Regions from separate parts of the Homo sapiens genome. Here region 1 is linked to region 2. Evidence: fine-mapped expression QTL. Tissue or cell type: monocytes after LPS. Region 2 holds a variant in brackets; the other region holds the start of a gene. All regions are shown on one strand. Distances are from middle to middle.

Region 1 (6,394 bases), 180 kb after region 2:
GATTAAAATTCTTCAGCTTGGCATTTTAGATCCTACATTATCTGGTCATTAGCTATTACTGTACTACTTTTTCATGTCTGTTACCCACTATTTCCTTACCTTTTGCTCTAGCCAAACAATGCTGTTTAATCATATCCTGGAAATTCATAAAATGTTTCCTATCTATCTTCATTTATGTCATTTCTCTTCCAACCCCAGACCAACTCCATTCTGATTAACAGTCTCATTTCTACCTTTAAGAAGTTTAACCCACCTTTGGTTCAAATAACACCATTTCTCTAAAACGTTCTCTCCATTCTCTGAATCTATAATATATGTAAAGGTCTTTTATATAACTTATACTTTTACTTCTATTATAATTTGTGTATGTGTCATATTGTTCCTGCTAAGATTATAAATGTGAAACATGAATATCTTTTTATCTTTGTCCTCCCAGTACACTGTAGTACAGTACACTGCACAGTTGATATCCAACAAACACTAAATGTATGTTGAATCTGAAATATGACATATACATAAAATAGTAGCTATGGCCATAAAGTTATATAGGACTTTTCTTTCACTCTCTTGTGTAGGAAATTATTGCCATGAGAATATATATATATATTTTTTTTGAGACAGAGTTTCCCTCTTGTTGCCCAGGCTGGAGTGCAATGGCATGATCTCGGCTCACTGCAAACTCCGCCTCCCGGGTTCAAGTGATTCTCCTGCCTCAGCCTCCCAAACAGCTGGGATTACAGGCGCCCGCCACCACACCCGGCTAATTGTTTTTTTGTATTTTTAGTAGAGACAGGGTTTTACCATGTTAGTCAGGCTGGTCTCCAACTCCTGACCTCAGGTGATCCGCCCGCCTCGGCCTCCCAAAGTGCGCGCCCGGCTGAGACTATCTTTAAAAATCAACCTTATTTATTTCTTGAGACAAATTAAAAAGCACTTCTCCCTCCCCTCATCATTAACCAGTATACCTTCTACCTTCTTATGTGTACATGAATTGTTATACTAACTTCCTTGGCCCAGATATAAAACTGTTCCCCAAGGTTTCAATTTTAAATTATCATATGTACCTACTGATCATACATGAAACTGCCTTACCATTGAAGAGAGTTTAGAAGGAAACAGATTGCCTGAGGTTGACTCAAAACCAACCTACAGTGTACTGGGAGGCATGGTACAATTATACCTTTCTGTTTCTGCTTATCCCCCAACTAGATAATATGTACCAACCCAAATGTTTGTTCAGATGAAGACTATATCTTCAGGTTCAAAAGTTGAAAATAATAGGTGGCTTTAAGTTCAACAATTTGCCAAAGATTTACTGAATTTCTATTTGAAAAGCACTGTGGGGAACACAAAAAATAATAAGACACTTTTCATCTTCTGGGACTCATGATTAAATGCACAGCACACACATAAACAACTTTATTATATGGTAGATTACGTAAGTGCTAAAAAGCTTCTAACAAGGTACAAACAGTGCTTATGAAGAGACAGATTAACCAAAGAGTATCAGAGATGGCTTCAAAATGAGAGATAGGTTTCTATTTGGCCCTTTTTAAAAATCAAGCAATAGCACTCAAGATTTTGAAGATTATTTTTAAGTAGATAATTTCTTTTAGGTATTTTTATTCACCAGTGTTGTAACGGAATTGGATTTTTTCCACTGAAAAAGTACGGATTTAACATGTAAGCTAAAATGTTAAATGGATTGTTTAAGGCTCACCTGGAAACATGGGAAAATATATTTTGCAAGCCAAACTTGAACTTACAGTCCAATATCAGATAGGGTTATTGGACATACTGTATATTTCCTTTGAACATACACACACTTATCTGTGTATGTATGTTCAAAGGAATTTTATTTCAAAGTGTATTTTATCTGTGTATGTTCAAAGGGAACACACATAAACGTGTGTATGTTCGACGGAAATATACAGCTTGTCCAATAATCTGATATAATACCTATTTAAAAATCTACTTTAAGAGAAAGGCAGACACGCATAAATGGGCCACCCAATTTTTACAGAAATTTGTTCAGCATATCGAGTACTCACGTTAAAAAGAAAAAACAACTGAAAATAAAATTCAGAGCCCTAGACCTTTTTTGATTCATACCACCTCCTCCGTCAACCCTGGCCTCTTCCAGATATATGGCCAAAGGTCGGGATCAAAGCCTGAAGCATTTGCTGTTCCAGAAAACTCTATGGACACCATTCCCAGGTTTAGATACTTCTTGAAGATTCTGAGTTGCACCACCTAACTCTGAACGTGTTGAGCACTGTATTAACAGATGAAAGGACCACATTCATCTCAAGCTTTAAATAACTCGCACAGAAGGGGTGGGAAAAGTCCCAGCTGACAGATGCCAAGGGAGCAAATTTTAAAAAGAGGAAATTATGACAGACAGGAGTGGAAGCAAACTGGGGAACTTAGTACAAGTCGCTACTATTAAAAGAAACTTTGAGCTCTTAATTACATGACAGCATTCATCAGACGTTTCTGTGATTACTGAATGTAACAGTTAAGCAATAGATGATGTAAAAAAATTAGGTCAAATGTATATATCGTTTTATAAAACATATTTGCTCTTAAATCTCTCATCCAAACCAATCTCTTCAGATTAACTATAAATACAAAGGAACTAAAATCAGATTATGCAGATTAGACAGGAGGAAGCTGGGAAAGAATAACTACCATGTAAGTTCGGTAACAACGTTACAGGGCGCAGTTTCCTGCTACAGAAGACGGACGAAGGAATCCAGAAAATAGGCTGGGCACGGGAATATTGCACACTGTAGTCACCCAGCACTAATTCAACAGCTAGCGGCTCTATCCTGCCTCACGTTCCTCGTGGCCTCTGACAAGTCATCCTTTCAACCTATGAGGCTGTCCGCTCTCCCCCTTGGAAAATAATTTCCGTGCAGGTTGTAAGATCTCCCTCACAAACTACTTGCTTCCACTTCCCCGCCCGGGATGAGGAGTCTCCACGACGGGGAAAGGTCGCACTGACAGAGAAGGAAGTTACACGAAGTGGTAGTGGTCGGACCCGAGCCTCGAGCTCAGTACACGCGGGGGAAAAGGAAGCGGGCGGCCTCTGGAGAAACGGGGATGGAGCTGCAGATGCGAGCCCGCGAGGCAGGCTCCGTGGTGCCCGGGCACCGGCAGGAAGAATGGAGGAGGGGAGGCGAGGCTGCGAGGTGCCGGGGAGCCGGGCGGCGGTCCGGCCCGCGGCCGACCCCACCCCAGCCCGCGCTCGGGACCCTCCCAGCCCCGGCACCCGGCGTGCGTTCCGCGTGCGCCGACTCTCCCCGGAGGAACAGCCACCGTCTCACACCCGGGGACTGGAGAAATCCGGCAACTTTGCGCGAGAAATGCTTCCCACCCTGCAGCACGCCGAGAAAGAAAAAAATGTCAGGCGATGACGGCGGAGGAAGGATGACTTACCCATGTTGCTCCCCGAGGGTGAGGAACCGGCGGGGCGAGGCGAAGGTCTGTGGTGCGGGCGGCGCGGCTCTGTGTCCTCCCTCTACCTCCGTCTCTCCCGCAGCCAGGGAGGGACCCGCGGGGGGCGGCCGCCGGGGAGGAGCAGCTGGTGCTGCTGCAGGCGGCGCGGCCGCGGCGGGGACGAGCGGCGGGGGGCGGGGCGGGGCGGGGCGGGGCGGGACTGGCGGGCGCAGCCTGCGGCGGGCGCGGCTCCGAGCGGGCGGGCGGCGGAGGCGCGGGAGCCGGCCTGAAGAGCTCCGGCCCCGACTCGCAGCCCACGAGCGCCCCGCCCTCCCCACCGAGCATGCTCAGTGCCTTTTCCACCCCTCCCTCTGTGGCGAGCGAGGCTAAGCGTGCGGGTGGGCGTGTGTTTGCAGACCGGCTGCAGCCGCGGCAGAGGATCTTCATGGCGGCCGCCTGAGAGGCGGAGGGCGGGCCCGGAGAAAACAGGGAATGGGGATATTGAGCCCGATCTGCTAGCAGAGGACTCACCGCTGCCTTGCTTTCCCACCCTGACCCACCAACCCCTCACCCGGAACCCGGGCTTGCCTTCTTTACGGGACGACCGGGCCGCACAGGCCGGAATTAACCGGAGAAGAGGCTGGGCCGCCGCAGAGCCGGGAGGGGTGGTGGGAAGCCAGAGCTGACGAAGTTGGAAAGGACGTGTAGGCGACTAGGCCTGCGCCTCTTGGGGACACCTGAGGACGCCCGCTGGGCAGCTGGCTGAGGAGGGGCCGCCGGGAGGGCGCTCGATAGCAGGCGTGTCATTGGGACACTTAAGGCTGCTCTAGCTGTGGCCAGCTTAGAAACAAAGGTCCCGGCAGCGAGGAGAGCGCCCGCCCCAGGATTTCCTCGAAGAGTGTGTCGTTCTCCCTCCCGGAGGAGCGCGGCCTTCCGTTCCCCGGAGGGCTCTGGAAAGGCCCTTTAACCGGGGTGCCGTCGGGCTCCATCCTGCTGTGAAAGCGGGAGGAACTACGTTCCCCAGGCTTGAAAATAAGCGTCCTGCTGGGTTGGCTGCGGCACTGCCAAAGCTAACCCGGCGGAGGTCCTTTGATCCCGGGGCCACCGCCCGCTCCCACCACCACCTCGGCCTCGGGGAGAACCTGAGCAGGGCTCTCCCACTGAGGGCGTCCTCCCGACTGGGCATGCACGTGAGGCCGGGGCTGGCTTCGGTCCTCTTCCCTGGGGTAGGAGGCTGGAGGAAACCGATTTCTCTGCACCCTAATCTTGCCCTGGCTCCTCCTGAGTGGGGTGAGGAATCTGGTCGCTCTCCAAGGCTACAGCGACCGGAGTCCTTCAGGGGACACTGTGCAGTCAGCAGTACAACCTGTTGGAGAAAGATGGCTGAATCGAGGTGTCTTTCCCCTGTCAACTTTCACTCGGTCAATCCAATGTTGAGAAAGGGCTTTTTTTGTTTGTTTGTTAATTAGTCGCCTATTCTCACAGTCATCAGTTTCTGCTTGGTGACTAGTATTTCGAGCACACAAATCAGAAGCGACCCTGTAATTTGTTAAGCAAAGAGCAGATTTTATGTGATTTTTCTACAGCAAGAAACGATAATTAAAAAGGTTTGGTAAAACAGGAAAATACAATTTAACTGCTGAAGTCAAATATATGGGACTTTTCTGATGCATGAGACTATCAGGCACCTCACTCTTAGGATGTTCTTCTTGTTTGCCTCTTAAAATAATCGCACTACATTAGTTCCCTAGGGCTGCCGTAACATACCACAAATTGGGTGACTTAAAACAACAAATTATTATCTCACAATTCTGGAGGCCAGAAGTTTGAAATCAAGGTGTAGGCAGGGCTGTACTCCCTCTGAGGGCACTGGGGAGGGATCTCGTCCATGCCTCTCCTAGCTTCTGGTAGTTTCTTGGCATATGGTAGCGTAACTCCAATCTGAACATGGCTGTTCTCCCAGTGTGCTTGTGTGTTCAAATTTCCCTTTTTAATAAGAACAGCAGTCATAACGGATTAGGGGCGAACCATCCTCCAGTATGACCTCATGGACGTTAATTATATCTGCAATGACCCTATTTCCAAATCAGGTCACATTCTAAGGGACTAAGGGTTAGGACTTCTACATATGAATAGGGCCAGCCTGGCCAACATGACGAAACCCCATCTCTAACTAAAAATACAAAAAATTAGCCAGGGCCAGGCACAGTGGCTCACGCCTGTAATCCTAACACTTTGGGAGGCTCAGGAGGGCAGATCACTTAAGTCAGGAGCTGGAGATCAGCCTGGCCAACATGGCAAAACCCTATTTCTACTAAAAAATAAATAAAATAAATAAATTAGCTGGGCATGGTGGCACGTGTCTGTAATCCCAGCTACTTGGGAGGCTGAGGCAGGAGAATCGCTTGAACCCGGGAGGCGGAGGTTGCAGTGAGCTGAGATTGCACCACTGCACTCCAGCCTGGGCCACAGAGCAAGACCCTGTCTCAAAAAAAATAAAAATAAAAAAAAAGAATCCGGGAGGGGTACACAATTCAACCCATAATACACCAATGCAGACCCCACCCTCAGGGCCCCTCACTGCCCCCACATCGGCCATGTTACACATTAATTTTATTACTCCTCCAGAAGACCAGCCTGGGCCTTTGCATTGCTGCTCATCATTTTTTGTTCATCTCTCCTTAACACTCATTAATCTCTTCCAGATTGTCAAGTTAACTTGCTTTATTTTTCCTACTTCCTTATCTAATTACATATTATAATAATTTCATGGAGTATCTTCTATCATTTATTTGGATGTAAGCGTTGAAATTAGCAAAAGCAGCTGAAGTGGCTTTCTCATTTCCCATCTGACACTAGTTAAAGTGCCTTTTTTGTTCTACTTCAATCTACAAGCCATCTCCTTAGCCTTCCTGCCAATTAAAACCAAAGGATTGTTCAGGCTTAGTGCATA
Region 2 (8,287 bases):
GTGGCTACAGCTAAAAAGCTCAATTTCATTAAAAATTTTATTTTTATTTTGGGACAGACTCTCACTCTGTCATCCAGGTTGGAGTGCAGTGGCACGATCTCGGCTCACTGCAACCTCTGCTTTCCAGGTTCAAGGGATTCTCCTGTCCCAGCCTCCTAAGTAGCTGGGATTACAGGTGTGCACCCTGATGCCTGGTTAATTTTTGTATTTTTAGTGGAGACAGGGTTTCACCATGTTGACCAGGCTGGTCTTGAACTCCTGACCTCAAGTGACCTACACGCCTCAGCCTCCCAAAGTGTTGGGATTACAGGTGTGAGCCATTTTGTTTCTACATTACAAACTATTAATAGGCATACTGTCTGCTGTTTGGGGGTTGTTTTTTGAATCCTTTTAGTTGGGAATCCTGCAGCAGTGAGAGAGGAGTATATAGGTTAGGCCCTAAGATATCACAATTCCATCTCACCTTGTCTTGAACGTCTAAAAGTTCAATTGTCATGAAAATCCTAAGGGAAGTAGGGATTATTAAACTTGTCATATTGAGAAATCAGGCCCAAAGAGTTTAAGTAACTTGGCTATGGTCACACAGCTAGTATGTAACAGACCCAGGATATGACTATAGATTAGACAGCATCCAAAGACCACACTCTTTGCACTGTATCACCCTTTTAAAGTACATAACTTGAGTCAGACACACCTATAAAACATACGCCTGTAATCCCAACACTTTGGGAGGCCGAGGCGGGTGGATCACTTGAGGTCAGGAGTTCAAGACCAGCCTGGTCAACATGGTAAAACCCTGTCTCCACTAAAAATACAAAAATTAACCAGGCGTCAGAGCACATGCCTGTAATCCCAGCTACTTGGGAGGCTGGGACAGGAGAATCACTTGAACCTGGAAAGCGGAGGTTGCAGTGAGCAAGATCGTGCCACTGCACTCCAGCCTGGACGACAGAGTGAAGTTACATGGCATATTATTTATATGTATATAGGCAAAGTTAGAGATCACACCTGTGAAAAAAGACCTCAGTTTTCCTGGCTACAGCTATAAAGATTCATCCCAAATATTATTACATGCTTTTTAATAGACACTTGTGTAATACAAATGTTATAGCGTCCTAATGTTAAGTGGCTTTTAAGCTTACTGATTCCAGTAACAGCTGGATACAAAGGGTAATGCTCACCTAAATGTCTTAATGTCTAGATATCCTCACCCAGTATGTTCAAGAGAATTAGATAATAAGCCTCCTAATTATAACAAAGAGCATTTCTTTTTGAATTCTTCACATGTAGCATTTTTCAGAACACTTCAGACTAATGCTTGCATATGAGAACTGCATTCTATTCAAGAAATCATTTTAGATGAAAAAGTTTTCTTCTATGTCTCCATTCTTATCAGACAGTATGCTCAAAACATGTTTTTATCATGGAAAACACTGGGTTATGGGCTAGTGTTTGCTTTGAGCACAATGAGGTTATGGTCTAGGTGGGTGGGCTGGCATGACTCCAAGTTGCTAATGGGGTTGGGGGGAAAGGGGTATATTCTAGTGCATTGCACTCAGGCATCTTCTTTGCTTGTATTCCTGCCCTTTTCATCTATGTTCTAGTACTGGCTCAAGATTGACAGTTAAAGCTTTGTTGTGCTGTTCTTCCCTCCTGTTGTCTCCCTTAGAATGTACTCTTAGTGGGTAGCAAACTAACTTAATAAATAGTGGCCTCTAGGACTAAGATTTAGTAGCAGGAGATAAGCGAGAGTACAGTCTGTAGACTCTCCCATCCACTGCAATGGCACATCAGTGTACCATCTAATTTGGTAGCCCCTGTGATAAGGGCACAGCCTTCTGGTCTTTCCGTACAATGATGAGTACTTTGAATTGCACTTTATTTTGCTGGAGATGGGAGTTCCTAGCATATTAGCAAATTGATGGCTGGCAGCTGGCCTAGATGGTAACTTCTCTCACATTTACGATTTTAGGATGCTTTTGTTAAAATTTTTTCCCTAAAGTCAGACAAACTATCAAATCTCAAACTTTCTATCAGTCAGTCAGTCTATCTTTCTGGAATTAGTTCAGGCAGTCTGGAAACTTCATGGATGCAGGATTCATTCATTCAGTCAACAAATATTTGTTGAACATCAATAGCAAGCCTTATTCTAGGAGCTGGAAATAGAGACAAAATATACAAACAAACCAAATGATGCCATTATAGCTTCATATACTATTTATTAAGTTATTAATATGAACAGATATGCAACATTACAGATGTCTTTCAAAGCCTGTAATAAAATATAGTCCACTATCCAGCCCAGGAGAAAGACAACAAACAGTATCATTCTTATAGTAAGTGTAGCATACGTACTCACAATAGTTCCCTTATTTGGACATCAAAGGGAACAATCAGTCAAGATTCTTTACCTCCATTAGAATTTAACTTTCTTGGATTATAGCTGTTTTAGAGTCAAAAGTCCAACTTAGATTATCCACAGAGATGTGTAGCATCACATGTTGGAGAGGAAGGAGCTACTGTCACCTCCGTGGCAGCCCTTTCTACTGTCTTGCAGTCCTTCTATATCGAAGCCCATCTTGCCTTTTAGGCCAGTAGTGGTCAAATTTGGGTATGGGGAGAAGGCAGGTGGGTCACAGGGAGGTTTTGATTAATTTACAAAGATTGTGTTTCAAAGCTCTAAAAACCCATTTGGTGGTGGCAGTGGCAGTGAAGAGTACACTATATTTCGCCAAGGGGGTCTTCTCATCTCTTGAGTCTTGGCTTTCTCATATCCTTTAAAATTGCTGCAGTTCTCAGTGGGAAAGTGGAGGTGGCAAACTCTAACAGCGATTGGTATGGGGCCATCTGCAGAATGAACTGGACTGGCTACTATGGCTTTTATAACCTGCTTTCCTTTCTTTAGTCTAGACAAGCTTATTTCTTCATCTTTCCACCTACGTCCTGCTAGTTCTAACATAAGATTTAAAAGGACTATGGAAGATAAAACTTCTCACTTTCTAGCTGAATGATGAAAAACAGCAAAAAAAAAAAAAAAAAAAAAAATTCCATTCTTCAATGAACTATACTCAATTTCCTCAGTTGAAAACAAACAAGCGCCAAATGAATTTTAAAGACAAGTGCTGGATAATGCTGATTAACTGGTAGAAGTAGTTCCTGAGTGAAACAGCGTATGTATCAGAATCTAAAATACAAGCAAAACCCGAAATGCTCTGTAATAGGGATTGTAATAGTGATTCTTCAACCCCTTAGTTTCACACTGAAAACTACAAATGTTTTTCAATATCAGGCTATTGATAATAGTCAATTAAATATGGAATCAGAAACCTCAGAAAGTCTTGCCAAGTTTGTGGCAGTTTCAATAGTCTAAAAAGGAAAAAGGAGAAACCAGAAGTTAAAGAGTAAGAGCATTGGAATTTTATTTAACTCTAGGTACCATGGATTTGACATCAGTAGGAAAGACTAATGAATAAGCAGCCATACAACTTTTTTGGTCACTGTGCTTCCCAAGCACCAAAAAATGGAGCTATTTTTCCAATTCAGTTTCATCTTTAATAAGCTAGACAGATCCTGCTGCATTCTTTGTTTCTAGTTTACCAGTACATCATTATGTAGTTTACTGCATGTGTGGAGCAAGTCATTATGTAGTACCAAGTTTACATCATCATAGGACTACAACATGCACATTCTACTTAATGTAGCTCAAGCAACAGGAATACAAGAGAACGGTTATGGGTGGAGACTTGCCTTTGACAAAGTCATGATCACACTAACTATAGGTTTAGAAATCTTATTAGGGAGGTACCTACAG[C/T]GGTTCTTCAATTGGTATTAGAACATCACATGCATGCACAAGTGGTATGGTAGAGAATGAAGCGGAAGAAGCCGCTGGATGGAGGACAGAGGGGAAATTAGAGATGGGATGATGCCGTGTATCGGGCAGTTCTCAGCTTTCCACAGTAAGTCTCTGCTCTGTGAGAGAGGCCTGCTGGGCAACACTTTTGTTCTCATGACTGCGAAGTTTGGATACGACATCTAGAAAAGCCAAATCCTGTACTTCCTTGTGTAGACATTCTGGAAGACAAAAAAATAACAGATATGATTCTGTTAGGTTGTTCTAAGTCTATCCAAAACATATACCAAAATGTTTATTTTGACAAGACTAAGCTTATAAAACTAGAAACAATTCTGGAAAAAGACATAGCAGTAGCCTAGCAATGTCTTTCTTAGAAATGTATTATAATTTAAAAAAATCATAAAAACTTTACTTTTTTTTAAATTAAAGGAAAAAATTTTAAAGATGGGGACTTGCTCTGCTGCCCAGGTTTGAGTACAGTGGCATGGTCACAGCTTACTGCAGCCTCAAACTCCTAGCCTCAAGGGATTCATCCTGCTCAGTCTCCCAAGTAGCTGGGATGACAGTCATGAGCCACTGCACAGCTACTTGCCCAATTTTTAAAAAGAAAAACGAGACGTCAAGTTCTACAATGTAAGATTAATTACAATAATGAGTTATAATTAAACACAGCTCACTGTATGATCTCAAGGTTTGGTTACATACAACCCTATCACCAGTTCAAATATGAAGTCCAATGACTTACCAAAAAGCTTAGGATATGTTTCAAATTAATTTTGTGGCAAAAGAAAAGTTTATACTTCATATCCTTCAACAAATTTCTGTGACACTGGACTCCCTTTTAGATTTTTTGTCCTCTTCTTTCTGACTTGCTTTCTCTATTTAACTTCAATTACAAGAAAATATAGGATTCCTGTTAGGACTCTGAGAACTGTTATATGGGATGAGTGAAGTCTAATAAGCTTAATGTAATCAGTACTACTGAAACTGATGTGTTTATTTTGATATGACTGACATAAACCAATGAACCAGTGTTTTTAGTAGTAATAGAAAAATCCATCCTAAAATTCATATGGAATCTCAAGGGACCCTAAATCTCCAAAACAATCTTGAAAATGAACAAAGCTGGAGTTCTCATACTAACTGATATCAAAACTTACTACAAAGCTACAATAATCAAGATAGTGGGGTACTGGTACAAAATCCTACAACTTGGGCCAGGCGTGGTGGCTCACGCCTGTTATCCCAGCACTTTGGGAGGCCAAGGTGGGTGGATCACCTGAGGTCGGGAGTTTGAGACCAGCCTGACCAACATGGAGAAACCCCATCTCTACAGGTGGTGCATGCCTATAATCCCAGCTACTCAGGAGGCTGAGGCAGGAGAATCGCTTGAACCTGGGAGGTGGAAGTTACGGTGAGCCGAGATTGCACCATTGCACTGCAGCCTGGGCAACAAGTGCGAAACTCCGTCTCAAAAAAAACAAAACTCTTACAATTCAACAACAACAACAACAACACCCTTCAATTCTAAAAATGGGCAAAGACTTGAATAGACATTTCTCCAAAGAAGATATACAAATGGCCCACAAACACATAAAAAGATTCCCATCAGTAATCATTAGGGAAACGCAAATAAAAACCACAGTAAGATGCCACCTCACACTCATTAGTTTGGCCATTACTAAAACACAGCAAATATTGGTGAGGATGTTGAGAAATGATAATCCATGTGTACTGCTGGAAGAAATGTACAATGGTCCAGCCACTGTGAAAAAGAGTATGACAGTATTTAATTAGTAAAAACAGTATTTAATAAAAAAATTAAACATTGAATGACCATATGATCTAGTAATTCCACTTCTGAGTATATATCAAAAATAATTAAAAGCAGAGGCTCAGAGATATTTGCATACCAATGTTCACAGCAGCATTATTCACAAAAGCCAAAAGGTGGAAATGGCCCAAATGTCCATGGATTGATGAATGGATAAACAAAATGTGATATATACATATGATGGAAAATTATTCAGCTTTAAAAGGAAATGAAATTCTGACACGCCTACAATGCAGATAAGCCTTAAAGACCTAAGTAAAATAAGCTAGACAAAAAAGGACAGGAGTTTCTTATTCCACATATATGTGGTGACTAGAGTTGTCAGATGATGGAGACACAAAATAAATGGTGATTGCCAGAGGCTGTGGGGAGGGGTAAATGGGGAGTTATTGGTTAATGAGTACAGAGTTTCAGTTTGGGAAAATGAAGGTGGTTCTGGAGATGGATGCTGGTGATGATTGCACAGCAATGTGAATGTCCTTAATGCCATTAAACTGTATACTTAAAAATGGTTAAAACAGTAAATTTTATGTTTTGTATGTTTTACCACAATTCTAAAAATGCTTAAACAAATGGAAGAGACTCAAAGTCTCTGCAAGGAAATAAAAGATATAAAGAAGAAGCAAATGGAAATTTTTAACTAAAATATATAACTGAAATAAAAACAGGTTCAACATCAGAATAGAGGGGACAAGGGAAATAATCAGAGAACTTCCAAGATAAAACAATAGAAATTACTCAGTCTGTACAACAGAAAGAAAATAATCTGTGGGTAAAAAAGAACAAAACCTCAGGGACCTACAAGACTATAATTAAAGATCTCACATTAGTGTCAACAAAGGTCTGGAAAGAGTGGATAGAATGGGGCTGAAAAGTACCTGAAGAAGTAACAGTCAAAACTTCTCAAATTTAGCAAAAGACATAAACCTATCAATTCAAGAAGCTGAGCAAACTCAAACAGGATAAACCCAAAGAAATCCATGCCAAGACACATCATAGTTAAACTTCTGAATACTAAACGCAAAGAAAGTCTTGAGAGACAAAAATGAAACCTTACCTACAGGGGAATAAAACACATAAGAACACAATGGATTTCTCATCAGAAACCAGGGAGGCTAGAAAAAAGTGGCACAATAGTTTTCAAGTAAAGAAAGAAAAGAACTGTGAACCCAGAATCCTATACCCATTTTCTGTCATTTGACAATGTCATTTCCCTTTCATTATGAATGAAAAAAATTTTTTTTGGCTAAAAATCTGTTGCTAGCAGTATGGCTAAAGGAAGTTCTCTAAACAGAAAGGGAATGATTATAACAAAAATAAGAAATCTAAAAATGTGCGTAAATACGATAGACTTCCCTTCTCTTTCAAAGAGTTTTCTGAAATATGTTTGGTGGTTGAAAGAAAAGTTGTAACACTGTCTAACGTGATTCTAAATATATGTAGAAGAAATATTTAAGAATGATATACGTGAGAGGCTGGGCGTGGTGGCTCACACCTGTAATCCCAGCACTTTGGGAGGCCAAGGCAGGTGGATCACCCTGACGGGTGGTCAGGAGTTCAGTATCAGCCTGGGCAACATAGTGAAACCCCGCCTGTACTAAAAATACAAAAATTAGCCAGGTGTGATGTGGCAGGCATCTGTAATCCCAGCTACTCGGGAGGCTGAGGCATGAGAATCACTTGAACCCTGGAGGAAGAAGTTGCAGTGTGCCAAAATCACGCCACTGCACTCCAGCCTGGGTGACAGAGTAAGACTCTGTCTCAAAAAAAAAAAAAAAAAAAAGATATATATATATATATATATATGGAAGAATAAATGTAAATGATTAAAAAATGTTTAACCCATAGGAAGTCAGAAATAAAGAAGAAATGTGACAAACAGAAAACAAAAATAAGATTGCACACTTAAGCCATATCAGTCATCCATTAAATGTAAATGGTCTAAATACACAAAAGGGACTGGTAGAGTAGATTAGAAAATGACAACTTTGTGCTGTATACAGGAAACTCACTTCAAATACAGCAGATTGAAACTAAAAGAGTGAGAAAAGATCATGTGAATGTTATTCAAAAGAAAGTAGGATGGCTTCTTGTAGTGGCACATGAAAGAAAATAAAATAGTAATAATAAAAAAACAAGCAGAAGTAGCTATGTTAAAGTCAGATAAAGTTGACGAGAGCAAAGAAAAATACCAGAGAGAGGTACACTATATAATGATAAAAGGGTCAATCCCTTAAGAAAGCACAGCAATCCTAAAGGTGTAGGTACCTAACAACAGAGCTGAAAATTATGTTAAGCAAAAATTGACAGAACTGAAAGGAGAAATAGGTAAATCTACAGTGGGAGACTTCAACACCCTTCCTCTCGACAATTGACAGAACAATTAACTGCAAAACCAGCAAGAATAAAGGAAACTTGACACTAGTACCAACAGAATCAAATTCACATTTATACAACAGTACCCAATAACTGCATAATACACACTCTTTTCAGGTGTCCATAGAACATATACCAAGATATGCCAATGTCCATAGAAGATATACCAATGATTTGTTGAAAAAAAAAATTTTTTTTTTTTTTTTGAGACAGAGTCTTGTTCT

What was found. PIP is the estimated chance that this variant, and not a neighbour inherited with it, causes the effect.
Region 1: it holds the start of RAP1GDS1, and the variant in region 2 is fine-mapped to the expression of RAP1GDS1 in monocytes after LPS (Fairfax 2014, PIP 0.95). The same link has a PIP of 0.9 or more in B cells, CD8 T cells, NK cells, monocytes, monocytes after interferon gamma and transverse colon.

What each region holds. Positions count from the first base shown.
Region 1 is chr4:98,258,617-98,265,010 of GRCh38, reverse strand. It overlaps RAP1GDS1 (Rap1 GTPase-GDP dissociation stimulator 1), which reads right to left and starts at 3,627. Exons shown (of 15, transcript NM_001100427.2): 1 at 3,442-3,627. The coding sequence starts at 3,445. RefSeq lists silencers at 3,337-3,406, 3,507-3,806 and enhancers at 3,773-4,335, 4,087-4,386.
Region 2 is chr4:98,437,774-98,446,060 of GRCh38, reverse strand. RAP1GDS1 (Rap1 GTPase-GDP dissociation stimulator 1) reads right to left here. Exons shown (of 15, transcript NM_001100427.2): 15 at 2,203-4,071. The coding sequence ends at 3,944. Among named protein-coding and RNA genes, the nearest start is that of RAP1GDS1, 180 kb to the right of the region's middle. The variant C/T (reference allele first, on the strand shown) is at 3,812.